Homo sapiens: one gene and its partners. The protein of the gene in region 4 purifies or fractionates together with the protein of the main gene of each other region. This does not show direct contact. Each region holds a gene or a part of one and is shown on either strand. Other genes may lie near its edges. The genes, in order: EXOC6B, KXD1, EXOC7 and EXOC1.

What was found.
Region 1: the proteins of EXOC1 (region 4) and EXOC6B purify together in Homo sapiens (affinity purification with mass spectrometry; 4 studies listed by BioGRID and IntAct, with this or other methods). This does not show direct contact.
Region 2: the proteins of EXOC1 (region 4) and KXD1 purify together in Homo sapiens (co-immunoprecipitation; 3 studies listed by BioGRID and IntAct, with this or other methods). This does not show direct contact.
Region 3: the proteins of EXOC1 (region 4) and EXOC7 purify together in Homo sapiens (affinity purification with mass spectrometry; 5 studies listed by BioGRID and IntAct, with this or other methods). This does not show direct contact.

Annotation. Positions count from the first base shown.
Region 1 is NC_000002.12:72,494,022-72,501,046, reverse strand, and holds part of EXOC6B (exocyst complex component 6B), read left to right. Parts: intron 1-1,074; coding exon 1,075-1,146; intron 1,147-2,495; coding exon 2,496-2,593; intron 2,594-4,487; coding exon 4,488-4,593; intron 4,594-5,507; coding exon 5,508-5,617; intron 5,618-7,025. UniProt on the Homo sapiens protein: Component of the exocyst complex involved in the docking of exocytic vesicles with fusion sites on the plasma membrane.
Region 2 is NC_000019.10:18,560,850-18,567,874, forward strand, and holds part of KXD1 (kxDL motif-containing protein 1), read left to right. Parts: intron 1-1,186; 5' UTR 1,187-1,207; coding exon 1,208-1,308; intron 1,309-2,916; exon of another isoform or gene 2,917-2,930; intron 2,931-4,019; coding exon 4,020-4,172; intron 4,173-4,284; coding exon of another isoform or gene 4,285-4,345; exon of another isoform or gene 4,346-4,360; intron 4,361-6,282; coding exon 6,283-6,329; intron 6,330-7,025.
Region 3 is NC_000017.11:76,086,786-76,093,810, forward strand, and holds part of EXOC7 (exocyst complex component 7), read right to left. Parts: intron 4,451-7,025; coding exon 4,358-4,450; intron 3,697-4,357; coding exon of another isoform or gene 3,544-3,696; intron 3,387-3,543; coding exon of another isoform or gene 3,259-3,386; exon of another isoform or gene 2,957-3,258; coding exon of another isoform or gene 2,890-2,956; intron 2,536-2,889; coding exon 2,390-2,535; intron 2,139-2,389; coding exon 1,986-2,138; intron 1,778-1,985; coding exon 1,679-1,777; intron 1,338-1,678; coding exon 1,275-1,337; intron 936-1,274; coding exon 869-935; intron 108-868; coding exon of another isoform or gene 69-107; intron 1-68. UniProt on the Homo sapiens protein: Component of the exocyst complex involved in the docking of exocytic vesicles with fusion sites on the plasma membrane.
Region 4 is NC_000004.12:55,856,628-55,863,652, reverse strand, and holds part of EXOC1 (exocyst complex component 1), read right to left. Parts: intron 5,340-7,025; 5' UTR 5,330-5,339; coding exon 5,206-5,329; intron 3,243-5,205; coding exon 3,112-3,242; intron 1-3,111.

The DNA of each region.
Region 1 (7,025 bases), on a different chromosome or scaffold from region 4:
TGGTGGTATTCTACAAGGAAAATAGAAATGAAGTTGAAGATCTTAAAATGGGATAGGAGATGGATATTTGGTATCGATACTAGTTTTAATCTAATGAAAAGGTAATAGCCCTTTTATAAGGAAGCATCAATATGTATAAAACAAAAACTGTTAGTAATATGAAGAGAAACGGACAAGCTGCATAATTGTGGGAGAATTCAAAACACCTCTTTCAGGACTTGAGAGACCAATGAGAGAGCAAGTAACAAAAATTATAATTAAAGAATTTGAATCTCAAAATCAATGAATTTTTACAATAATGACATACACATCTTTGTATCCTGCCCACAGAAATTATTTTCCATGTCAGTTAACTTTTCTGATTTGTTGATATGAGGTTATACATGGACATTATTTGTAATTTTTATTTTCCTCTGTACTTATTTTCTCTTTTGTATTTCTCATGTTTTTTATTTTCTCTTTATTGTTTAATCAATTTTGTCTAAGATTTGTTTATTTAATTGATTTTATTTTTAACTTGGTCTTTGGTTTATTTAATCAAATCTTCCATATCTTTTTTAATTTCATTAGGTTCTGTTTTTAATTTAATTAATTTTATTCTCTCATTTACTTATGGTTCATTGGCTTTCCCCCATAGTTTCATCAGTTCAGTGCTTAGTTTGTTTATTTTCAATCTTTTGTGTTTTGTGATGTTTACATAAAGAAATACAAATTTATTTTGAAAATGGTTTTAGCCACATACCATAGTTTTTGATATGAAGTATTTTATAGTTGTTCATTTTTAAAAGTGTCAATTTTGTTTTCTTCTTTAACCAAAGAGTTATTTAGAAGTGCATTTTTAAATTCCCAAGTGTTAAAAATATAGATCATGGTTATTGAACTTGCTGTACTCAGCTGTTCCCTGGCTGAACCTGGTGTTACCTTGTACCAGGGAAGTGTTGAATTATTTCTAGGGAAAGAATTTACCAGGTAAAGAATTTGCCAGATAAAGCGCTAAACAATTAAATAAATAAAAATTTAATTGCATTTTTACTAATAACATGTTTTTCCTCCTTTGTCTTTTATTTACTTTAGTCTTACTGTTCTGATCCAAACCTTGTGTTAGATTTGAAGAACCTCATTGTGCTTTTTGCTGACACACTTCAGGTATGTGATTTCTGTTTACATATGCTCATCTAGATTGGTATTATAATCAGCTCTAAACCTTTTTCTTGACTGGGTCTGGTGGCTTTTGCCTGTAATCATAGTTCTTTGGAAGCCTGAGGTAGGAGAATTGCTTGAGTCCAAGAGTCCAAGACTAGCCTCAGAAATATAGTGAGACTCCATCTATACAAAAAATAAAAACATAAAAAATCACCAGTAGCAGTACCACATTCCTGTAGTCCCAGGCACTCTGGGGGCAGAGGTGAGAGGATTGCCTGAACATAGGAGTCCAAGCCTGTGGCAAGCTATGATCTCGCCACTGCACTCCTGCATGGGTGATAGAGACCCATCTCAAAAAAAAAAAAAAAAATCTGACTGGGTGCAGTACCTCACGCCTGTTATTTCAGCACTTTGGGAGGCTGAGGCAGGCGGATCACTTGAGGTCAGGAGTTTGAGACCAGCCTGGCCAACATGGTGAAACCCTGTCTTTAGTAAAAATGCAAAAATTAGCCGGATGTGGTGGTAAGTGCCTGTAATCCCAGCTACTTGGGAGGCTGAGGCAGGAGAATTTCTTGAACCTGGGAGGTGGAGGTTGCAGTGAGCTGAGATAGTGCCATTGCCCTCCAGCCTGGGCGACAGGGTGAAACTCTGTCTTAAAAAAAAAAAAAAAAAATCTACATAAGCTTGGATAAGTTACCTGTTAGTTTTAAGTTGGGTTTATTATTTTCCTAGGAACTAGGTCTTTTTATCTCTTTTATAGCATTTCCTGAACTTTACCCTGAGCCATTATGTTTTCATATGTAGTTTCCACCTCCTTTTTTTCTCTCACATCAAATCAATTAATTGAACTACTGACTACATTAGTTTTTCAAAATGTTCTTAATTCATATATGGCAGCTGAGTTAGTTTGCAGTTTCTTTAACTACCATCTTGAATAATGGTGGTTGATTTGAACCACATATTATATCTAATAGAATAGCATTAGAAGTGGATGAGATTCGAAGCATTTTTACTTTCTCTCCCTTCTGTGAACGCTTACTATAGGTAGTAGGACTTATAGGAAGGGATGTAGGGAGGACTTATCCCATAGTATACCCTTTATATATAGATTTTAATTTTCATCTTTTTCTCACTGGCTTAAACATTTTGCTAGGTATTATTTAATTTTTGAGAGATAAATGCTAGATATTAGGTGTGAATGAAAGATTCTACTAAATGGTTTTATTTAATTTGCTGTTCAAAGAATGTAATGTTTTTCAGTATCTTATCCCTCTCATTTTGCCAAAAAAAAAAAAAACCGAAAAAAAAACTCCTTCCTTAGACACTGAAGTGATTTTCTTATTTTGTTTCAGGTGTATGGTTTCCCTGTAAATCAGCTTTTTGACATGCTGTTAGAAATCAGAGACCAATATAGTGAAACTCTGCTAAAGAAGTGGGCAGGTATTTTCAGGTGAGAAATTATCTATAGTCATATGTGTGTGTGTTCATGTACATTAGTGTACACACATGTATTTATGCGCAAAGGTTTTCAGATGTTATAGGCAACAAGTATATGTTACTTATATTTTGTAGCTACTCTAGGTTATGATCCAGAATTCAAATAAACTGTTAGAACGTCCAAAATTAAGTTCCCAAGATATCCAGTCTCAGTGTATTAGTGTCTACTGTAGTGGGAAGTCCCCAAACCCTATTTTGCCTTTTTGTTTCCTTCGATAAATATCAGATTCCTTGGTTCATGTCATTCAGATCATCTTGGTGTCATCTTATTCTGTTATTTGGTTTTCATTTTGAGGTTCATGCCTAGTCTACAACTCAATTATAGTGAGTAACATTTGAGCACTTAGGAATAATTTAGGCTTTCGGAAAATCTGTTTGGATGACTCACTCATGTTGTTCCTCATCATCTTCCCTCTCCACACACAGCAAAGGGGCATATTACAGCCCAGTGTTTGAAGCCTGTTATTTAAGTAGTTATTGCAACATGCATACAATAATAAGAAAGTTATTCTGTCACATCTATCACTCACAGATGTCTTCTCGAACTGTGCTCTTGGCACATAATCCAGGTCAACTCATTTGACTTTCTTCTCTTTTTATACCTTTACTCCTTTACTTTAAGTGATTATGCTGCCTATTGCAAGACCCCTTTCCCTGATCAGTTTGTCCTCTTTTCAAACTCTTATAGCTTCAAGATCTTACATTAGTCCTTTACTCTTACTCTTCTCGTTTATGAACATATCTCTGATCATCACTTAGTCCAATTTATCTGTATATTAATATAAATATTTATATTTCTAAAACCTAGATTTAGCTAATGGTATAATTGTATTTAAGGGAGTCTTATCTCTATAGGATATTTGAAAATTAATAACATGATATATCCATAGTCTTAGATGCTCTGATCTGACGCCTTCAGTGAGTCTTCTGTTTTGATTTTGGTAGTATGTTCCCTACTATTAGAGAATGCCCAGTTTATTTAAGGAGAGAGAACCTATCGATTTAAAAAAAGTCATCCTTGATATAGAGCAGTAGGTAAAGTAAATGAAAATAGTTTGAATTTATTATTGAAGTTACTCTGTTTGCCAATTTTGAAAGTTAGAATAGAACATGATTTTAAAAACCTTATCAATGGGCCAGGTGCAGTGGGTCATGCCTGTAATCCCAGCACTTTGGGAGCCAAGGTAGGAAGATCCCTTGAGGGCAGGAGTTTGAGACAATCCTGGACAACATAGCAAGATTATATCTCTACAAAAAAATTAAAAATTAGCCCGATGTGGTGGTGAACAACTGTAGTTTCAGCTACTTGGGAGGCTGTGGCGGGAGGATTGCTTGAGCCCCAGAGTTTGAGGTTACAGTGAGCTACGATCATGCCACTGCAATCCAGCCTGGGTGACAGAGCGAGACCCTGTCTCTAATAATAATAATAATAATAATAATAATAATAATAATAATAATGTACATTTATATATCATATTAAACCAAACAGAAAATATCTTTGCCTTTTCTAGAGCACACATTCTTTTGTTGTTTACTTCTCACTTACATTGAAATGTTCTGTCCTATTTGTAAATCTCAGTTCCTAAGAGATATGTTTATAATTGTGGTCCATTTGTTTCAGAGGATAGTTTTCTTTTTGTCTTCTTTAAATCCAAAACCAAATAGCTATATTGTGGAAGGAATATAATAGGGACTGGGAAATGTTCATTTTGGGTTGTGGCATATATATTAAGATTGGAGTTCATCAGAAAAATATTTGTGATTAACCCACCTTCCCTCTGTTCCCCTCCCCTACCCCCCCACTTTGTCTATCCTTCCCTTCCCTTTGTCTATCCTTCCATTTATAGAAACATACTTGATTCTGACAACTACAGTCCTATACCAGTAACAAGTGAAGAGATGTACAAAAAGGTGGTAGGACAATTCCCATTTCAAGATATAGAACTGGAAAAGGTAAGGAATACTTTAAAATAAATTTCTCTGGTTGTTTTGGCATCCTCTTAAAAGCTTTCATTGGATCAGTTTGATTGAAAGCATTACCTTTAACTCAATGGGTTAGAACTCTAAAACAATTTCAAAGGATTCTTTTTTCTTTTTCTTTTTTTCACTTTAATCACCTTTCTGACGATGAAGGATTCTTTTTGGGGAAGACCAGAATTTCCTGATTTGGGAATCAGCAGATGGCTTTGGATCCTATTACCTCTGAAGTGTTTGGAGGATTGCTGCGGATGTTCTAATTCAGTTTACACTTTGAAATACTTGTTTTTATTAAAATTTAAAGACATTTTTTCCCCACAACATAAAATTTACACTTTGTGGTGTACAATTCTGCTGATTTTGACAATGTATTGAGTTATGTATCCATTACCACAATGTTGATACCAAATAGCTCTATTATAAAAAAAAAATTATTTAATGATGCCCCTTTGTAATACCCCTCCCTTAACCCAGCCCCAGGACAGCAGAAACCTGGGCTCTGTGCATCTACTTTTGCCTTTTTCAGAATGCCATATAAATGGAATTGTGTAGTATATAACTTCTTGAGACTTACTTCTTTGATATAACATAATGCTTTTGAGATTCGTCCAAATTGTTGCATGTATCATTGTTCATTCATTTTTATTGCTGAGTATGTAACACAATTTGTTTATCTCTTTCCATGATGAAGGACATTTGAATTATTGTTTTATTTAAATTTATGTCTTTTTAATATCAGAAAACTTTGGGAGATATTTTCTTATATTTGAGTTTGTTAAGGAGACAATTCACAATGTGAAAGAATGTTCTTTTTGCAACCTAAATAATTTATAAATATCTTCAATCTTCGTTGGTTTGTGACTTGATTTCATTACTTCTTGCATTTACAGCAACCATTTCCAAAAAAGTTTCCTTTCTCTGAATTTGTGCCAAAAGTTTACAACCAAATTAAAGAATTTATCTACGCTTGTCTGAAGTTTTCAGAAGATCTTCATCTAAGGTATAATACAAAATAGTAGAAATGTAACCAATGCTAAGATTGTGACTCCATGTATTTACATATTCTGAAAAACTTTTGATAGTCCCGTCAGCCCTGATTTTGGAAATCTTAATAATTAGCTTTTCACTGCATGGCACTGCTGTATTTCTATAGTCACGATGAAAGAGAAGATTGGTAACTTTTGCATAATTTTGAAAATTTATATTATCTATCTTATTCTTTATAGATTTGCATTTCAACACTTATTAATGACAGTTTACTAGAAAATGGTAGGCTGGATGCAGTGGCTCATTTTTGTAATCCTAGCACTTTGGGAGGCTGAGGCAGGAGGATCGCTTGAATCCAGGAGTTCAAGACCAGCCTGGGCCACATAGTGGGACCCCCATCTCTATAGAAAAAAAAATAGACAAAAAATACTGATTTTGACATTCTACTTAATGAAATGTTAAGGCCAAAAGGGGAGTATCAGATAAAATCCTTTGGAAACACTATTGCTCTACTTGTATATGTATATTTTCTATACGTGCTAGAGTGTAGGCTCCTTTGTTTCTTTATTCATGTATTGGTTTATTCACCGTAGATTTTGGCTAATGTATTATTTGTCAGATGCTGCTTGGTATAGAAATAATTAAGTTGCTGAAAATGTGGTCCCTGTCTTCAAGGAGTACCTAGTCTAATTAAGAAGCTGAACAATTAATAAGTGCTGGAGCAACATACAAGCCAAGCCAAACACAAATGAGGATGTTTGTGTTCCATCCTTTTGTAGGGTGGAAACATTTTATCTTTGTTCAACACAATATCCCCTGTACCCAGCTCGGAAAATTTTTTTTAATGAGTGTATGTATGAAATGAATGGAAAGCATGGTATGCCAGGCTACTCTGAAAATAAACATAGTTGGGGAATAGTTTGAGTCACTTCTTTGTTAACTATTCTTACTAAGAAAATAAATGAAACATGGGGTTTGTACAATTAATTTGTCATTTTCTCTGAAAATGAAATTGTTTTCATAGAAATGTTCTCTTGAAAATAGATTGTCTTTTGAAGTTACAAACCAAAACTTTTTTACCCTGGGTTTCCATCCCCCACCTGCCTGGCCTCCACTTCATTAATATAAGTGACCTTATATCAGATAATTGTCTGTAGGGTATGTTAGGTATATTATTGTAGATAAATCATTACAAGTTGATTGCAAAATTACTTTTTCTATCTTCTTTTGGAAGAAAGGTAATATGGTAAAGGAATAATATTAGTAATGGGATAATGTCAGATGCCTTTTTCTTGCCTGAATATGTGAAGTTTTTGCCTGAAAACTTCCTTTGATACTTTTCACATTTAATATTTAAATAAAATATTTAACTTGGGGATTTTAGAAAAAGCTAGATGCCTTTTACTCTTCATTTGGCATTT
Region 2 (7,025 bases), on a different chromosome or scaffold from region 4:
GTGCCCACCACCATGCCTGGCTAATTTTTGTATTTTTAGTAGAGATGGGGTTTCACTATGTTGGCCAGGCTGGTCTCGAACTCCTGACCTCGTGATCCACCTGCCTCGCCCTCCCAGAGTGCTAGGATTACAGGCGTGAGCCACAGCACCTGGCCACCTCTGCTCTTTTGGAGCTGACGTTGTGGCGGTGACAGGCAAACGGGTTAGCTGATAACTAGGATAATTTCATGAAGAGGTGAACCAGTGAAGCAGTTAAATCAAGGTAAAGGGTGGCTGGGCGCAGTGGCTCAGGCCTGTAATCCTAGCACTTTGGGAGGCCAAGGCAAAAGGGTCGTGTCAGCCTAGGAATTTAAGAGCAGCCTAGGCAACATAGCGAGACCCTGTCTCTTAACAAACAAACAAACAAAAACAAGGTAAAGTAGCCTGGGCGCGGTGGCTCATGCCTGTAATCCCAGCACTTTGGGAGGCTGAGGCGAGTGGATCACCTGAGGTCAGTAGTTCGAGACCAGCCTGGCCAAAATGGTGAAACCCCGTCTCTACTAAAAAATACAAAAATTAGCCAGGCGTGGTGGCGGGCACCTGTAATCCCAGCTACTTGGGAGGGTGAGGCAGGAGAATCGCTTGAACCTGGGAGGCGGAGGTTGCGCTAAGCCAAGATCGCGCCATTGCACTCCAGCCTGGGTGACAGGAGTGAAACTCTGTATCAAAAAGAAATAAAAAAACGAGGTCAAGTAGTAAGAGAAGCGGTAAGAGTGACGGGAACAGGAGTCATTGACCTCTTGGGAGAGGAGACATTGGAGGTGGTGATGATTTGCTGAAGCAGCCACACACGTTCAGCTTGTGAGGACAGCAGTTGTTAGGCAGGGGATGAGGGAGGAAGCTGGCAGATCTGTGCAGGTGAGAGGTACCTGTGGCCTTGGGCTCATGGAAGTGGGAGGTGATGGGATTCTAATGTGCTTGGGTACAGTTTACAAATACAACCTCTCTTAGTTTGCCCAATACCTCCAAATTCCTGGGGTGGCACACCTGAGGTTCAGGTGGCATGACTGAGCCACAGTCACACATCCCCACTGTAGGATACCACCACGGTTGGGTTAGGTTCCAGCACATGGCGGTCCCGGCCTGGCCTCTTGGTCCCACCTCACCTGGTGACTAGTGCAGACCACTCTGTTCTTGCCTGTTTCAGGCAGCGGAGGAGGAGAAAGAGATGGACCTCCCGGACTCGGCCTCGAGGGTCTTCTGCGGCCGCATCCTGAGCATGGTGAACACAGATGATGTCAACGCCATCATCCTGGCCCAGAAGAACATGTGAGTGGCGGCTGGGGGACCTGAGCGTGGGAAGGAATCCACAGGCTGGCCAACATTCTTGTCTTGCCCGCCCCTACCCGGGGCCCACACTGGTGATAAAATGAAGGAAATGAGCAAATCTGTCGCTGGCTCCAAAGTAAATTCCTTCCCGGCCTGGAGGCGAGGCCTTGGCACAGGAAGCAGGGCTTTGGGGAGATTTTGCAGCTGCGGATGGCTTGGCGGGGGCCGCAGGGGCTCCTGTCCCGAGACCTGGGGTGGGAGAGTTGAAGGACCAGAGGGGGCCACATGCAGGTTTTTTTGTTTATTTGTTTCTTGTTTTTGAGACAGAGTTTTGCTCTTGTTGCCCAGGCTAGAGTGCAATGGTGTGACCTTGCCTCACTGCAACCTCCGCCTCCCGAGTTCAAGCGATTTCTCCTGCCTCAGCCCTCTGAGTAGCTGGGATTACAAGCATGTGCCACCATGCCCAGCTAATTTTTGTATTTTTAGTAGAGACGGGCTTTCATCATGTTGGTCAGGCTGGTCTCGAACTCCTGACCTCAAGTGATCCACCCGCCTCGGCCTCCCGAAGTCCTGGGATTATAGGCCTGAGCCACTGTGCCTGGCCTTTATGCAGGTTTTATGCTGGTGCGCCTACTTCCTGGTGAAGGACTAGTCTCCCAGAGCCCAGGCTGTGTCTGCACAGTGCCCAGGGTCTCTTGGAGCGGACATAAAGGCCTCTTGTCCTCACTGGGGTTTGGTGCTGTGGCTGCTGAAACCTTGCCCTAATTCAGGCCTGCCCTGTGGGGAAGAAAGGCTAATACCAAGCTTGTCCAACCCTCGGCCTGTCCAACCCTTTGAATGTGGGCCAACACAAATTCGTAAACTTTCTTAAAACATTACGAGATTTTTTTTGTGATTTTTTTCTTTTTCTTTCTTAACTCATCAGCTGTCGTTAGTGTTAGTGTATTTTATGTGTGGCCCAAGACAATTCTTCTTCCAATGTGGCCCAGGGAAATGAAAAGACTGGACACCACTGGGCTAATACAGTCTTGGAGTGGAAGCACAGCCTCCCGCAGCTTTGTTTTTGTGTCTCTGAGCCAGAGGCTCTTCTCAGCTGTCACGACACAGTACAGACCTGATTTCCTTACCTTTTCTCCCAGACCCAGAGCAGCTCCGAGTCTCAATAGTACCTGTCTCTCTCCTGTGTCTTTTTTTTTTTTTTTTTTGGGAGACAGAGTCTCACTCTGTCGCCCAGGCTGGAATGCAATAGCATAATTGCTGCTCACTACATCCTCTGCCTCCTGGGTCAAGTGATTCTCCTGCTTCAGCCTCCTGAGTCGCTGGGATTATAGGCATGCACCACCATGCCTGGCTGATTTTTTTTTTGTGACGGAGTCTCGCTCTCTCGCCAGGCTGGAGCACAGTGGCGCAATCTCAGCTCACTGCAACCTCTGCCTGCTGGGTTCAAGCGATTCTACTGCCTCAGCCTTCCAAGTAGCTGGGACTACAGGTGTGCGCCACCACGGCCAGCTAATTTTTGTATTTTTAGTAGAGACGGGGTTTCACCACGTTGACCAGAATGGTCTCAATCTCTTGACTTCGTGATCCGCCCGCCTCAGCCTCCCAAAGTGCTGGGATTACAGGTGTGAGCCACCGTGCCCGGCCCTGATTTTTTTATTTTTAGAAGAGATGTGGTTTCACCATGTTGGCCAGACCTCAAGTGATCCACCCTGCCTCAACCTCCTAAAGTGCTGGTCTCCTTTTTTTTGAGACATAGTTTCGCACTGTCACCCAGGCTGGAGTGCAGTGGCGCAATCTCAGGTCACTGCTATGTCCGCCTCCCGGGTTCAAATGATTCTCCTGCCTCAGCCTCCCGAGTAGCTGGGATTACAGGCGCCCGCCACCATGCCCAGCCAATTTTTGTATTTTTGGTAGAGACGCGGTTTTCCCATGTTGGCAAGGCTGGTCTCGAACTCCTGACCTCATGATCTGCCTGCCTTGACCTCCCAAAGCGCTGGAATTGCAGGCATGAGCCCCCATGCCCGGCTGGTCTCCTGTTTTTTTAGGTCAGATTCAGACCTGGCTCTGGGAAACTTCTAGACTGAGGGGAGACAAAGCCAGACACAGACCCTCCTGGCCCTATGGTGTCAGGGCTGGGCCAGAGGAACAACCTGGGGCTAGTGGAATTAAAAGAGTCTGATTGGGCCAGGCACGATGGCTCACTCCTGTAATCCCAGCACTTTGGGAGGCCGAGGTGGGTGGATCACGAGGTCAGGAGATCGAGACCATCCTGGCTAACCTGGTGAAACCTCGTCTCTACTAAAAATACAAAAAATTAGCCAGGCATGGTGGCGGACGCCTGTAGTCCCAGCTATACTCGGGAGGCTGAGGCAGGAGAATGGTATGAACCTGGGAGACGGAGCTTGCAGTGAGCCGAGATCGCGCCACTGCACTCCAGCCTGGGTGACGAAGCAAGACTCTGTCTCAAAAAAAGTCTGACTGAATAGAGGTAGACAAGGCTACATGAGAAGGACACACTTGAGTAGGGTTTTGAAGGTTGAATAGGAGTTTGCTAGGTGGCTCAAAGAGTAGGTAGAACTCTGCAGGACAAGGGAACAGCCCATGCAAAGGTTGTGAAGCAGGCAAGGGCTTGGCATGAACAGTCTTCTGGGCCAGGTTGGGCAGGGCCCTGAAGCTGGGCAGTGAAGCTCATGCCCTCTCTCCACCATCAGGCTGGACCGCTTTGAGAAGACCAATGAGATGCTGCTCAACTTCAACAACCTGTCCAGTGCCCGCCTGCAGCAGATGAGCGAACGCTTCCTGCACCACACGAGGACCCTAGTAGAGATGAAACGGGACCTGGACAGCATCTTCCGCCGTATCAGGTGGGTGCTCAGTGCCACCCCAGCCCAGCTGACCTCTGCCTCCACCTCCCCATCTGAGCCTCAGTTTCCTTCACATACCAGGGTAAAGGGAGATTTCTGTTTGTTTTACAAGGCTTCACTGCGCACTTAAGTGTCTGGGACAATTCCAACCCTGGGATAAAATCTTGACGTAAGTTTATTTACTGATTGATTAATTGATCGAGACAGAGTTTTTTTTTTTTTTTTGGAGACGGAGTCTCGCTCTGTTGCCCAGGCTGGAGTGCAGTGGCGCGACCTCAGCTCACTGCAAGCTCCGCTTCCCGGGCTCACGCCATTCTCCTGCCTCAGTCTCCGGAGTAGCTGGGATTACAGGTGCCTACCACCACGCCTGGAGAATTTTTTGTATTTTTAGTGGAGATGGGGTTTCACCGTGTTAGTAGTCAGGATGGTCTCGATCTCCTGACCTCGTGATCCAGCCGCCTTGGCCTCCCAAAGTGCTGGGATTACAGGCGTGAGCCACTGCGCCCGGCCGAGACAGAGTCTTGATCTGTGGCCCTGGCTGGAGTGCAGTGGCGTGATCTTGGCTCACTGCAACCTCTGCCTCCTGGATTCAAGCGATTCTTGTGCTTCAGCCTTCTGAGTAGCTGGGTCTACAGACATACTGTACCACACCCAGCTAATTTTTGTTGTTGTTGTTTTATTTTTGAGGTGGAGTCTTGCTCTGTCGCCCAGGCTGGAGTGCAGTGGTGCAATGTCAGCTCACTGCAACCTCCGCCTCCCAGGTTCAAGCGATTCTCCTGCTTCAGCCTCCTGAGTAGCTGGGACTACAGGCGCATGCTGCCACGCCCAGCTGATTTTTTGTATTTTAGTAGAGACGAGATTTCACCGTGTTGCCCAGGCTAGTCTCAAACTCCTGAGCTCCAGCACTCTGCCTGCCTCGGCCTCCTAAAGTGTTGGGATTACAGGTGTGAGCCTAATTTTTGTATTTTGTGTAATTTTTGTATTTTTTTAGTAGAGACAGGGTTTCCCCATGTTGGCCAGGCTCATCTCGAAGTCCTGGCCTCAGATGATCCATCCACCTCGACCTCCCAAAGTGCTGGGATTATAGGCATGAGCCATCATGCCCAGCCTTGCAGTTTATTTATTCTTAAAAAATGTAACACAGTGCGGCTGGGCGAGGTGGCCCATGCCTGTAATCCCAGCACTTTGGGAGGCCGAGGCAGGCGGATCACGAGGTCAGGAGATCAAGACCATCCCGGCTAACATGGTGAAACCCCGTCTCTACTAAAAATACAAAAAATACTAAAAATACAAAAAATTAGCTGGGCGTGGTGGTGGGCGTCTGTATTGCCAGCTACTCGGGAGGCTGAGGCAGGAGAATGGCATGAACCCAGGAGGTGAGCCGAGATCGCGCCACTGCACTCAAGCCTGGGCGACAGAGCGAGACTCCGTCTCAAAAAAAAAAAAAAAGTAACATAGTGCTAGACACATAATGAAAAGGCAGGAATGGCTGGGCACAGTGGCTCATGCCTGTAATCCCAGCAGTTAGGGAGGCTGACGCAGGCAGATCACCTGAGGTCAGAAGTTTGAGACCAGCCTGGCCAACATGATGAAATCCCGTCTCTACTAAAAATACAAAAAAATCAGCTGAGCATGGTGGCACGTGCCTGTAATCCCAGCTACTTGGGAGGCTGAGGGAGGACAATCATGTGAATCCGGAAGGTGGAGGTTGCAGTGAGCCAGGATGGCACCACTGCACTCCACCCTGGGCGACAGAGTGAGATTCTGTCTCAAAAAAAAAAAAAAAATTTATCAGAGAAGAGGCCACATGTAAGAAGCAGCCTCGCAGGGGGAGCCCCCAGCCAGTGCCTAGGCTCAGAGCACCCAGAGTCTAACTAGTTGGGGGTTGGTGCCTACCTTGGGGCTGGAGGCCGGCTGGTGGGCGACTGTCAGGGCCGTGGCTGCTGGGCCGAGCACCTAGAGAGAGTGAAGATGTGAGGTGATGAACAGTGTGGGGGTTCTCACTCCCGTCTCCCCTTGCCCTCAGCTGGCAGCAGGGGCTTGTGGCCAGCACCAGGCCCAGCCTACCTGCTCAGCAGGTTAAGCCCTGTGTGCCTTCTCTCCCCTGCAGGACGCTGAAAGGGAAACTGGCCAGGCAGCACCCAGAGGCCTTCAGCCGTAAGTGTCACGCAGGGTTCCTGCTCCCGAGCACGTCAGCACTCTCCACCCAGGGCAGGCTTCTGGAAGGCCACCTTGGGGCCTGATACTGAGACCAGGCTGTAATGGGCAGTGGGTCTGGGGAAACCTGGGGTGGGGGCAGGGTCAGGGTGCTGGCCTGGTCCTGTCAGCAGCTGGCAGAGTGGGCACTAGGACGGGAGTCCGTGCCCCGTGGGGAGGCCGCACAGGAGAATGTGGATAAGCAGCATGACAATCCTTATCCCTGTGTGCATTATGAGCCATCTCAGAACAGAGCACGGGCTCATGTGACACCAGCCCCGACATCGTCTCGCCTTCCCTGAGCCCCAGCTTCGAGGATCTGTCCCATGTCCAGCTGTTACCCACAGTCACCCATGGGGTGGGGACTGTGAGTATCACCGTTTCATGGAGAGGGAAACAGAGGCCCAGAGGGGCAGGACTTGAGTTCGCATCTGTCTGGCTAGAGAGCTCGCGTGTTCTCTGGGGTACCATTCCATGTTGCCACCACCTTAAAGGGCTCTGCAGGCTGAGCCTGGGTTCACACCATCTGTTGAAAAGGCCGACAGCTCTCCATCCCAGGGCCTCCAACAGCAGTTTACAGAGCAGGGAGCTGGGCTGAGGGGAGGTCATATACCTAGCCCAGGTAGTGCAGTGAGCCAGGTTCGCCCTCAGGGCTCC
Region 3 (7,025 bases), on a different chromosome or scaffold from region 4:
GTCCCCAGGGAACCTCACCCACCAAGCTTCAGAGGGACAGGAGGGGGCTGCAGAACCGCACTGCTTACCTCGGGGGTCTAAAGGAATATTGTATGTGTCCCCAAGAACTACGGAGTGAAAGGCAGTGCACACAGAGGGGACAGAGGGAGAGACAAAGGAGGGAGAAAGATGCAAAGTGCAAAAAACAGGTTAGAAACGGCATGTCAACCCGAATTAAGCAGACCTCTCCCCACGACAGCCAAAACACAGATAGCAAGACACAGCAGGCGGGACCCTCTGAGGACCAGGGAACACCCTGGAAAGTAGAGAGCTGAGAACTGCAGGCTGGAGGCTGCCCACAGGCTCCTTGCCCCCAAAATGGGACGGGAGGAGAGGGCCCAGGGACCTCAGTGCTTGGAATGACCCAGAAAGGTGCTCTTGCTTACAGGCCAACCCCCTGAGCTCCAGTCCCAGGGCAGGGCCAGCAGGAAGACGCCCAGCGGGCCCTGAGACACTTGCTACCCTCTGAAGGCCAGCTGAGCGAGCCTGATTAGGAGAGCAGGCAGACACGAGAGAAGGATTTGGGAGGGGGGCAGGGGCAGAAAGGACACCTTCCAACCAACCAGCACCGCTCCCAGAGTGAGGACACTGCTTCCAGGGCGAGGACGGTCAAAGGGGCTGAGGGAGGGGCCAGAGGTCCAGTGTCTGGTCTTGAAAGGTGCAGGCAAACCTTGCTCTCCTGATGCTCAGCCCCAGGGACCCTCTGCTGAGCACACCTCAACCCCTCCACAGACTGGAGATACCTCCTCACTGCTACCTGCCCTCTAACCCCATGTCTCCAGGCAAGGAGGCGAGTGGGGCAGGGGGCCCAACTGGGAGGTACCAGTACCTTGGGAGGCCAGCATGGCGCCTGCCGTCTCCTGGAAGTCCAAAAGCTGCTGCAGGAAGAGGATGGCCTGGGTGGGAAGAAAACGGTGCAGAAGGGCAAGTGGCAGGCCCGGCCGACGGCCTCCCACAGCGACCCCTCTGAGTGCCCAGGGCCAGCCCAGGGCTGGGATCCGCCCAGTGAAGAGCGCGGCTGGAAACTTCATTTTCACTCTAGCCTGCCAGGAAAGGCCCTGTCTGCTAGAGACACTAAACATGTCACTGTCCATCCTGCCACCCAGGACTGCTCACAAAGGTGCGAGCGGCTCTGGGCCAGGCTGAGTCCCTTCCACCAGTACTCTGCCTGGCCCTGGGCCTGGGCCTGGGCCCTCCTTCCTCCCCTCTCCCTGGTGTCCTCAGGCAGCACCCACATTGCTGGTGAGCTCGTGTACGGTGCCGTCCTTCGGCATGTTGTACTCCTTGTCCGGGTCATTCTGTGGAAAAACAGCCTCTGGTTCCCTGAAGCAGCCCCCAGCCCACCCCATGCCCCAGTGCACCTGCTCATGGTGCCGCCTCCTGGCAGACGGGTGCTAGGACACCTCTCAGGCACAAAGGCTGAGCCAGGCTGGACCAAGGGGGAGAGGCCCTTCCCACTTCAGAGGGCTTGGAGGCCCCAGGAAGGAAAGGAAGGCACATGGGTGCTGACAGGCCAGTGGCGCAGCTGGCTGCCCCGGGACAACGCACCCTCTTGGAGGCCTGCTCTGAGAGTCCCCCAGGGCCAGGTCACTGTGGTGCTGGGCCGGGAGGGAGGGAGAAAGGGGAGGACAGCAGGGACCTTGATGTTGTCTGCGAAGTCCTCCAGCGCTTTGGCACCGATGGTCTCCATGGATGTGATGAGGCCAGGCAGCTTGTTCTTTGTGCTGGCAGCCGTGCCCTGAGGAAGCACAGGGGAGCCCCCAGCTCACCTCCAGTCGCTCTGTGAGCATCTCACTCACCCAGGGCCCTTCCTAAGCTGCTTCCATGCACCTTCAGAGCAGAAGTGTGGGACAGAGAATGGGGTTCTCCCAGGGAGGGATGGGGCGGCCACACCCGGCAGCACGATGCCTCCTGGCTGTGTTTTTGAGGGCCCCTCGCCCACATACCTGGAGCACCTGGTCAAACTCAGGCTTGGTCTGCTTGAGGTGTCGCAGGATGGGGAAGACGGTGAGCACCGTGGAGAAGTCGTGTCGCACAATGGCCTTCCGGGCAGCAGACACGATGTTCTCCCCTTCAAGCATCAGCCCATCCAGGGCATCCTGAGGGGGCAGGGAGACAGTTCAGGGAAGGGTGGGGCGGTGGGAGCTAGTTCTGGGCTAGTGGGGGATCCTTGCAGTATGTAGGGGGGCCAGTGTGCAGGAAGAGGGGTGACGGGGAGGTGGTGAGCGTCCACCCAGGACCGGTCCCCAGGGCACGAGGTGGTGGTGGTGGGTGGAGTTGAGGGCTGCAAGAGTCTGTTGTGACAGCTCTTGCTGGGGCTGGCTGCAGAGCCCCCGGGGCGGGGCGGGACCTGTATCAGGGAGTCGAAGGTCTTCTTCTGGTGGTGCTCGGGGATGATGTCGGCCAGCAGCTGGTACTCGCTCTGCGCCAGCTTGACGAAGGCACTGACGCAGTGGATGTAGGCATCGGTCTCCACGTCCAGCATGTCATCTCTCCCTGGGGGATGGCACAACTCTTGAGCTGCTGGTCTGGGGCCAGCCACACTCCTGGCTGGGGGCGGCGTGGGTCCCCCAGCTCCTGGCCTGTACCCCACACTGGCAGAGGATGGGGAAGAGGCTGACTGTTCTGGCAGAAAGCTGCAAGGGAGCCAGCAGGCCCCGCCAGGTTCGAGGGGAATAAAAGGAGCTGAGCCCAGCCTTTGTTCTGGCTTCATTCTCGGCTCTGCGCAGACAGTGGGATCAGACACCAGAGGCAGGAGAGTGACGGATGGAAAGATAAGGAGGGAAGATTCCTGAATCAGCGTCCTGGATAAGGTGGTTTGACCCCAGGACTGAGCATTCTGAGTTGTACCTGAAAGAGGGCAGCCCAGGGTGGGCAGGTGGCTGTGCCACCTCAAGGAGGCTGGCACTGGGGTCATCCATGTGGGCAAATGCGGGGCCTGTGAAGGAAGTGACCAGCCCAGTCAGGGCTTCTGGAACATCTAAGAGGGTGGTTGGCTGCAGCTTCTGAGGCTGGCTGGCATGGGGTCAAAATCTAAGAGGCTGGTAAGTCCCAGAGAGGAGGGGTTGCCAGCTGCCCCAGGAGGAGGCCAGACCCTATTACTGGAGGCCACGGCGGGGGCGCCTGCAGGCAAAACCGGCGGCAGAACTGCCTGGTCCTATGTGCCAAGGGATGGGCTCCGAGGGGATCAGAGCTCTGAATTGTTGCAGGAGGCGGACGTCAGGGCTCCCTGCCCTCAAGGGAGCCACCTTCCCTCTCTGCCTGCTTTCCGAGGAGCAGCGGCTTCTCCCCTTGGCCCAGGCCTGACAGACAGGCACGCACTCCCATCTGGAGAGAGGCAAGGAGACCTAGGCCCAAAAGAGAGAGAGTGGAGAGAGAGGCGCATAGGCCTGGCCCATCCTCAGAGCAGAGTGGGCCCAGCTGGGCCAGGCAGGAGCAGGCCATCCGGGGACCGCTGCGAAGGCAGTGTCAGCGGCTGCCCTCGGGCTGGGCTGCGGTACTCACCGGCCAGCGGCCCGTGCTTGTCGTTCAAGGCCTCGGACAGGTGCTTAACTCGGAAATCATGCTCGTGACCTGGCGAGATGTCGGCCGCACAAACACAAGCAGCGTTTATCCAGGGGCCAGGCAGGCCGCCCCTTGGGGTACAGGGAAGAAGCCCTTCATCTCCAGGAGGGGGACGTCAGATGGGGATGGGGAAGGGGGCATCGGAGAGGGCCCTGAGCCCCTCCTCTACCTCAAGCCACCTTGGGAACAGCCGTTTCAAGCCTGACTTCAGTGAGCACCCAGGACCGTCCTTAGCTGCTCATTTCCCCGAGCCTGGAGGCCCAGGGAAAGCGGAGAAGGACCAAGGAGGGGCTGAAGAGCTGATGCTTGGCCCCAGGGGGGTTCCCCACCTCGCTGTATTTGGGGAAAGCCCCAGTTTGCCTGTCCTCTGCTGCACACACTCCCCTTTCTAAAGATGGGAAGGCCGGGAGGCCTCGGCCAGCTGGGGCCTGCCACTGCTGGTCTGAGCGTGAAAGGGCTGCCCCAAGACAAATAACTTTTTCTGAGTTCACACAGGAGACAAGGACAGAGACAGGGAAGGGAGGAGGGAAGCCTCAGGGAGGGCAGAGCTGCCATCAGCCAGAGAGGACCAGGCCGAGGGCTGCGAAACTGTCCCTGTGCCCGCTGAAGCCCGAGTGGCATCGGGGACCTGCCGTTCCCACCCTGCTCCCCTCAGGGTTTCTCCCGAGGCCCTCCTGGGGGAGGCTCTGCCCTGCCAAGTGCGTGGACACACAGTGGAGGAGGAAGGGACAGGAGGGGAACACAGGGTGATTACCTTCCAGAGGAATGAGGTTAGAGCCCCCCTTTTTCCCATCTAGACCATGCTGGGAATACTGTTTCAGAAGGTTCTGAGCCTTACGGATCGTCCCTGTCACCAGAGCCACACAGAGAGGAGATAAGAAGACCTAGGAAATGAGTGAGAGAAAACAGCAGCGGCCCTCCACCTGCCCCCCAGGCCCCGCACCCAGCTCCCCAACAGTGAGCAGGCCTTTCCCTGAGACCACCAGAGACGCTGGGGACAAGGATGAAGGAAAGGAGTCATTTCCTTCTCCAAATGGAGCCTTGATTCTACTACCGACCCTCCTTGTTCTGGATTTCAGCTCATTTCTGAAAGGACAGAGGGTAATGAAGATGGACCAAGATCCACCAGGAGAAGTCAAAAATATGGAGTGGCATCATAATCAGAACAGGCGAGGGCTCAGGTCGGAGGAGCCCGTGACAAAGCTCGCATACCCAGAGGGCACAACCAGGGTGGGAGAGCCTGGGGGGCACCCTGAAGCCAGCAGGCCCCCAGCCCAGCCCCAAACTCCAGGCAGAGTTCTCCGAGCATGCTCAGTGTTGGGACGTACGCCAAACAGCAGCCAGCAGGAAGCCACCCTGACTGAACTTCCGGGGGAGCGCTGTGCCCAAGGCGGACGGCTCAGAGACCCAGAGGCAGCCTAGCCCCACACCAGAGTTCCCCAAACCACCAAAGCGACAAGAAAAAATCCAAAAGTCAAGAAGGGGTTAACAGAAGCCACCACACAGAGCGCCTGGAGGGTGTGCACGGAAGGAGAGGGCACATGCTCTTGGCATGGGGGAGAAAAACAATAGTTAGTATCACAAGTGAAAACAATGAGAACAAAATGGCAGCACCCACAGCCGCCTGGGTCAGCCTCCTTTGTGGGAATGAGACATCTCGGGCCAGAAGACGTCGGGAAATCAACTCGCATCTCAAGCAGACAAGTGCAGCTGCCTTGTTAACAAAATGTATAGGGGCAGAAAGGCACCCGGGATGCCTCCCACCCCCACAGTCTATCTGAGCACAGTGAGGCTGCTGTGTCCTGGCAGCTCCCCAGAAAGCTGAGGGAGAAAGGGGCAGTGTCTGGAGGCTCACTGCTTACACCTGCACCGCACCGCACCGCACAACACCACAATTAGCTTGTTTTTTTTTTTTTTTTTTTTTTTGAGACAGTCTCACTCTGTCGCCCAGGCTGGAGTACGGTGGCACGACCTCGGCTCACTGCAACCTCTGCCTCCTGGGTTCAAGTGATTCTCCTGCCTCAGCCTCCCAGGTAGCTGGGATTATAGGCGTGCGTCACCACACCCAACTAATTTTTTTTCTATTTTTAGTAGAGACAGGGTTTCACCATGTTGGCCAGGCTGGTCTCGAACTCCTGACCTCAGGTGATCCGCCCGCCTCGGCCTCCCGAAGTGCTAGGATTACAGGCGTGAGCCACCATACTTGGCCCATAATTAGCTCCTAATAACCAAGGCCTGGCTCACGTCTCCCTTGCTCATGCTCTCCCCTTCAGCGAGTGCGGCTTACTAATGAGTGAATCTGATTCCTGCCCCACAACCCACCAGGAGCAGACACAGACGCAGGTGCACGCCGGCAGGATGTGGGTCGCCGATGTGGATCTAGCAGCCGCCAAACCCGTCAGGCTCCCAATTGCCTCCAGGGATGCTGAGGTCGGTGCTTCACCACCTGGGAGGCCTCCCTGTCCCTCTCCTCAGAAGTGGGAACCGACATCCCCAGAGCCTGACTCCCTAGAGCCTGACATCGGTCCTGAGCCCACCAGTTCCTGACAACTCTGAAACCCCACAGCTGGAGTTTTCCTCTAGTGTCTCTGGCCCAAGGATGGATGTGGTCCACTGTGAGCCACCTGAGATCAGATCCCTCCTGCCTGAAAGGCCAGGTAGCTGCATGGCCAGCGGGCACTCTTAAGGCAGTGCAAATAGGGCTCTGGGGCTTCTGGGGGACCTGTCAGGGAGCCAGGCAGAAGAGGAAGCAAGCACAGACTGGCTGGGGCCCAAGCATCCTAGCAGCCTCATAGAGACAGCCACTCCCCACCACACAGAAGGCACAGAGCTGCTCCATCCACTGTGCAGGCAGCTGCGCCCACAGGCTGGGCTGGCAGTCCCCATTTGCAGCAGGTTTTGGCTGGTGGGCAGGATTTCCACACTGGAGGGAGAAGGCCCCAGGCACCAGCTCCCTAATGCTCTACTCCCTGAGGGCAGCCCCTGCTCTGCCTGTTTCTCCAAACCCTAAACAAAGGCCTGCAGGGGAGCGGGTGCTCTTGTGGAACAGACACCTCACTCTCTGAGGGGCATGAGCAGGCAGGGACTGGAGAAACCAAGGGTGTAAGTAAGCTCTACCCAAAGCTTGTTGTCATAAGCAGGTGCCACAGGCCACAACTAGGGCATGTGCCCACAGCAGCAGCTGGACAGGGGGCCAGCCTGGGTGGGAGCAGCCCCGGCTTCTCCAGCTTTCTTTTTCAGTGCAATCTCAGCAGCCCCACCCCAGAACATCCCAGCACATCATCGAGCTGCGGGCAGCATCTCTCAGTGGCCAGACATAGCCGGGCTTGCCAAGCTGTGGCTGGCAGAGACACTGTTTACCTGGAGCACAGACTATAAGGGATATGATGCCGGGGAGAAAGAACAGACAGATGACGAGATGT
Region 4 (7,025 bases):
AGCTAAAAGTGCTGCTAGGTCTCAAAGTTCTTTATTTTTTTGAGACAGGGTCTCACTTTGTTGCCAAGGCTACAATGCAGTGGTGCAATCATGGTTCACTGCAGCCTCCACCTCCTGGGCTCAGGCAATCCTCCCAACCTCAGCCTCCTGAGTAGCTGGGGACACGGACACATACCAGCATGCCTAATTTTTAAAATGTTCTTGTAGAGACAAGATCTCCCCATGTTATCCAGTTGATCCTCCTGCTTCGGCCTCCCAAAGTGCTGGAATTACAGGCATGAGCCCTGTTCCTGGCCTAACGTTCTTTCATGTGATAAAGAAGCTCAACCAATCTGAGAGAATTACACTATAGTTTCTTCAAGTCTCTTAAGCCACATTATAGCAATAATCCACATCAGGCTAATATTTCTCCCTTGAATGAATAGAACTACTTGACTATTATATAAAAAAACAGGCTGGGCTTGGTAGCTCACGCCTGTAATCCTAGCACTTTGGGAGGCCGAGGTGGGTAGATTGCTTGAACCCAGGAATTTGAGACTGGCCTGGGCAACATGGCAAAACACTTCTCTACAAAAAACACAAAAATTAGCCGGGTGTAGTGGCATGTACGTGTAGTCCCAGCTACTCGGGAGGCTAAGGTGGGAGGATGGCTTGAGCCCGGAAGGTGGAGGCTGCAGTGAGCCAAGATTGTGCCACCGCACTCCAGCCTGGGTGACAGAGTGAGACCCTGTCTCAAAACAAACAAGCAGACAAACAAACAAACAAACTTATGGATGTATACTTCACATCCAAGGAATTAAAAAATAGGCTCAAATATTCTTAATGTTCTACAGGGTAAAAGAATAATAATATATTTGATTCATTTAAAGTGTTATTTGGGGGAAATGTAAATACATTAAAGTAAGGGAAGTTATATCAGACTTTCACTGTGAAGAACTGGAGTATCTCAGGAATCAGGACTTGACCTTTGGTACAACAATCATATTACAGCAGCATGGAACTACTAATTAGTTCAATTTATAGCTTAATAAACAGAATTGAAGCGTCAAAAATTTAAAACCTGCATATACAATGAAAAGGTAATTGCATTATTACTTACAAAAAAACACAACAAGAGTATTGGCAACCAATATGAAACTTGATGGGAAATAATCTCTTCCCTGGGAATATTTCCCATAATACCATAAAAGAAGCTGAGTGCTCCAGTGGCAACACTCACAAATCAATGTGTGATACTAAATGGCTAATGTTAAGTTATGTATAAAAATTTTATGTTTTATATCCATATATAGCATACACACACCAAGGTGCCTACATAAAATGCAAAAAAAAAAAATCCATTAAGCAAGTCTGCAAGAGGCATCAGCTGTGAGAATGCATTCAAATAAGCATTCAGCAATGTTACTGAATTATGCAAGTCAACAGGGTTACGAAGTGCAAAACTACTGAAGGGAAAAATGTTTTTTAATAAAGGTGCAGTTTTAAAAACCCTTAAAGTGTTTTGTCTTAACAGAAAACAACCAGAAAAGTTTCCACTCTTGATCCCTCCCCATGGTAATAAAAATTACTTACAGAAGTTTTTTTTTGTTTTTTTTTGTGGAGACAGAGTCTCACTCTGTTGCCCAGGCTGGAGTGCAGTGGCGCAATCTCGGCTCACTGCAACCTCTGCCTCTCAGGTTCAAGCAATTCTCTTGCCTCAGCCTCCCAAGAAGCTGGGACTACAGGCGTGTGCCGCCACGCCCAGCTAATTTTTTGTATTTTAGTAGAGACAGGGTTTCACTGTGTTACCCAGGCTGGTCTTGAACTCCTGAGCTCAGGCAATCCACCAGCCTCGGCCTCCCAAAGTGTTAGGATTACAGGCGTGAGCCACCACGCCTGGCCTAAATTATTTTTAAACATCCCATTATAATTTTCTTTCCAATCTCTAGCTTTCTAAATTTCTGTCAAATCCTGTTTCTACATTTCACATTTTTCTAAGCATTGGGTGCTCCTTAGGGATAAAACAAAGGGCCAGTAAGCCTAGAATACTTAAAGAAAAGGCATGATTTACATTTGGAAGAAATCTGAATTATACAGATATAGAGGGCTCTCCTCAAATTGTTCTTACTTCATTTTTTTTGCACCCAACTCAACTACCTGTCATTTTGTCCAGATTTTTGATCCTTGGAGGTTTGTACCAAAGTAAGGGTAAAATCAGAATTTTATTTTAACAGATTGCTTTACACAGGCAGTTTTTTTGTTTTTTGTTGTTTTTACTTTGTGCCTTTTTAGTAAATGTATGAGATTTGTAGAGTCAAAGAGCACCTGTAGTTTCACTAGTATAAGCCTTGCTATTATGTTCATCCCATCGACATACAAGTAGTTGTGGTACAAAGTATTCTCTTGTGCTATGGAGGTGTGTTAGGGCTGCAGAGAAAGATGAAGGGCAGAGTGAGAGAGGGCCAGGGGGAGGAAGCACCTAATTTAATCAAAGGAGGCCAACTTGATTGCTTTGAAAAAAGGGTATTGCTGTGAAAGCTTTGAACTGTCAGGAACATAGGTGGTCCTTTAATGTGATTATCACATTAATCACCTTTCTTGGAGTTTGAGTGTGGTTTATCTATAACGTGTAAGTTTATATCTTCATAGATCTTATTATCTACATTCCTTAAAATAAGGTATGTAACCCACTATCATTTCTTTTTTTTTTTTTTTGATCCACAAACATCAAAGCCATGGTGGCCTCAAAAGGCCAGTCTGGCTGCCCCAGCTGGTGATTCTATGTTTACTCATGAAGACTAAGGAAGGATCACTTTGGTTATATGATTTTGATTAAACAAACAAACAAACAAGCAAAAAAAACTCATGACACACCACTTTAAAATCCATACTATGTATAGATTTTATACAAATTATACTTAATCTAAACACAGAAATGTATACAGTCAAAGTAATTTTTCTCTAGTTTATGTAGCTTGTGCACAAACATAATTATAGCTTAAAAAAAGCAAAAAAATAAGAAAACAAACATATATATTAATTTGTTTTTAGATCATTTTAGAATATGTAATACCATGTTATAAAATGAAAGATGCTTTCTGAACACAGGTCAAAGAACTGAGAAAAACCTACTTTGATAGCATCTTTGGCATCTACCACAGCAAGATCTCGAAGGGCCCATGCAATCTGCCTTTTGTAGAAATCTCCCTTATCGGATTTCTTGACTTTGACCACCTTAACCTGCACAGGGCGTTCAGTTGTCACTGTTGAGTAAAACGCACACTTTTATTAGAAATATTACCCCTTTCACTCATTCTTCATTCACTCATTGCAAGTATAGCTTTCAGGTGCCTAGTAGCTGATACTAAAAGAGGTGTAATACTTTGCAACAAGTGCTATGACCGAGGAAAGCACAGAATCCTAATAGAAGCATCTAAGTCAGACTAGAAGATCAGAGGAGATTCCTTGAAAAATAAAGGAATGATATATTAATAATAAATTCAGACCAGTTTTAAAGAAAAGTATGAGGTAAAAATCTAAAGAATGATTGACATAAGTAAAGTCTGTGAGGCTTGAAAGAGCAAAATACCATTTCAAAGAGCAACAATACATTTATATATAAAGTTCTTACTATGTTGCCCAGGCTGGTCTTAATTAAACTCCTGGGCTCCAGCGATCTGCCCACCTCAGCTTCCCTAAGTGCTGGAATTACAGGCATGAGCCACTGCTCCTGGCCTAAGAATTTCTTTATAGCAATGCAAGAATGGCCTAATACAAATACATTACGATTGAGTGAGGTCATTCTAAAAAGTCAATTTATCATTTCAAAAACCAAGTACAATTATATACTACACTAACAAGGAAGAAAATTTTATGATATCAATGATATGAAAAAGCAGTTGATAAAATTCAACTCCCATTCATGATTTTTTAAAAAAGTGTAAGAAACCAGGAATAGAAGGGAACTTACTTAACACTGTAAAGTATAGCTATAAAAACCCTATACCAAATACCATGCTTGAAAATGAAGTCATTCTCCTTGAGATGGAGACTGTATTGATAGTCCTAACTAGGAAACTAAACCAACAAAAATAAAAGATATAAAAACTATAAAGGAAGGAAGAAAAATATCACTACTTTCAAAAAGTCTACATATAATTAGAATTAATAAGAAAGTTTGGCAAGATTGATAGACATCCATATAAAACACCAACAATTCATTGTAGAATTCTAACAATATATGATTTTAAAATGTATTAATGTTAATAAGCGCTTTCACGACTATCAAATAAAATCTAAGAATAAACCAATACTCAGGAGTAAATCCAAGAATATACATGACAAACCTTTAGAGAAAATGATGAAACTTATAAAGTTAAAAAACACCTAGATAAATAGAGAACTGTACCATGTTCATGGACACAAAGATTCAATACAATAAAAATGCAAGTTCTCTCCAAATTGAACTATAGGTTCAAAACAATTCCAATCAAAATCCCAACAAAGTCTGAAACTCGACAAGTTGTTTCTAAAATTTAGGTGGAATAAAGAACAAAAACAAAATAAAAATAACATATAAGATGACAACCAGAAATGCTCACACACACCATGACAGATGTCAACACAGGTGAACTAAGACTAAACTGTAAAAGGCAAAATTATAAAACTTTTGAATTTAGGAAAATATTTTTATGACTGCACAAAAGATACAGGGAAGGATCTTTTAAGACACCAAAAGGGAAAGCCATAAAGGATTAATTAATTTCATTTAGTTTAAATTATAAATTTCATTAACAGGCATCATAAAAAGTGAAAAGACAAGCCACTAACTGGGATGCATACAACCAACAAAAGGTTGATAACCAGATTATAGAAAGAACTTGTACAAATCAGTAAAAGGACAAGCAACACAACAGAAAAATGAGTAAAAGGCTTAAACAGGTAAATTTCATACACAACAGAATGAAATGACTAAGAAATTCATGAGAAGATGCTCAATCTCATCATTATAGGGAAATATAATTTAAAACCACAATGAGATACTATTTCACTGCCACCAGATTGACAACAATTAACAGCCTGTCAAAGCCAAGTGTTAACTAGGAATGTGTTGACCCAACAATTTTTCCAATTACAGAGACAATGAGGATATTCAAAACAAAGAGGAAATATCTTCTAAATAATAAAAGGATACAAAACAAGTACTCTTTCTTACTAAATACCCACCTGTGGCACATAAAAAACAGTTCTTTTTCTTTTTTCCTGCTTTGCAGACATTCACAATGCTCAGCAGGCGTTCATCATTTGGTGTAAAAATGTCTCTTTGTAATGCATGCTTGATTGCTGTCATCTTTTCTCAGCTGAAAAATGTGGAGTATAGATATTAAGCTCACCCTCAACATCATTCCATCTTATACTTCTGAATTTATGATTTGAAAATAATTTTTGGTTAACAAGCCTAGGAAAAATGATTTAATATATGAATACACCTATATCACAAAAATACAAAGCTGTAAGTTTGGAAATAAAATTAGAGAACCAGTGTTATCAAACTCTAAAATGTTTGGAAATGCTCACCAAGTATACACACACACACAAGATTTAAGAAAAAAATCTTCAACCCACTGCTCAAACTTTTAATATAGTTTTCTACATAAAGAACCCTTACAACAATAAGAAGACAAATAACCCCATTAAAAACTGAATAAAAGACCTGAACAGACATTTTTCCAAAGATATACAAATGGCCAATAAGCATATGAAAACATGCTTAACATCACTGGCCACTAGGGAAATGCAAATCAAAACCACAATGAGGTATCAACCACTTTACACCCATGAGGGTGGTTAAAATAAAAACGATAGAAAATAACAAGTGTTGGTGTAACAAGTGTTGGTGAAGATGAGAGGAAACAGAACTCTCATACATTGCTGGTGGGATTGTAAAATGGTGCAGCCACTTTGGAAAACAGCTTGGTGACTCCTCATAAAGTGAAACATGGGCTACCTTATAATCCAACAATTCCACTCCAGGAGAACTGAAAACATATGTCCACACAAAAATTTGTACATGAATGTTCATGGTAGCACTATTTGCAATAGCCAAAAAATGGAAATAACAGAAATGTCCATCAAATGATACATAAGCAAAATGTGGTATATCCATACAATGGATTATTATTCGGCTGCAAAAAAAACAAAGGGCCGGGCACGGGCGGTGGCTCACGCTTGTAATCCCAGCTCTTTGGGAGGCCGAGGCGGGCGGATCAAGAGGTCAGGAGATCGAGACCACGGTGAAACCCCGTCTCTACTAAAAATACAAAAAAATTAGCCGGGCATGGTGGTGGGTGCCTGTAGTCCCAGCTACTGGGAGAGGCTGAGGCAGGAGAATGGCATGAACTCGGGAGGCGGAGCTTGCAGTGAGCCGAGACTGCGCCACTGCACTACAGCCTGGGAGACAGAGCCAGACTCTGTCTCCAAAAAAAAAAAAAAAAAAAAAAAAAAAGAAAAAAAGGAAATGAAGTAATGAAACATGCTAAAATATTGATGAATCTTGAAAAGATTATGCTAAGTGAAAGGAGTCAGCCACAAAAGACCACGTATTGTATGATTCCATTTATATGAAATATCCAGAGTAGGAAAATCCATAGATACAGAAATATAAGTGGTTTTCGGGAGCTGGAAGGGAAGGTGGAAACGAGGATTGACTGTTAATGGGTATGGAGTTTCTTTTTTGGGGTGATGACAATGTCTTTCAACTAGATAGTAATGATGGTTATACAACCTTGTGAATATGCCAAAAATCACTCAATTATACAATTGAAAAGGGTAAATTTTATGATACATAATCTCAATAAAACTGTTATAAAAATAGGTTTCCACTTATCTCCTTTTTCTTATCTAACTCAGCATCTTTTCAAACATCAACTTAAAATAATTTTAAATCTCTATTTTATTTTTCATATACATATTTGTGTGGATATGTATTACAATTTTTCAATGCAAATGTGTAGTATTTCATACATGTGAGCTTGCCTAGGACACTA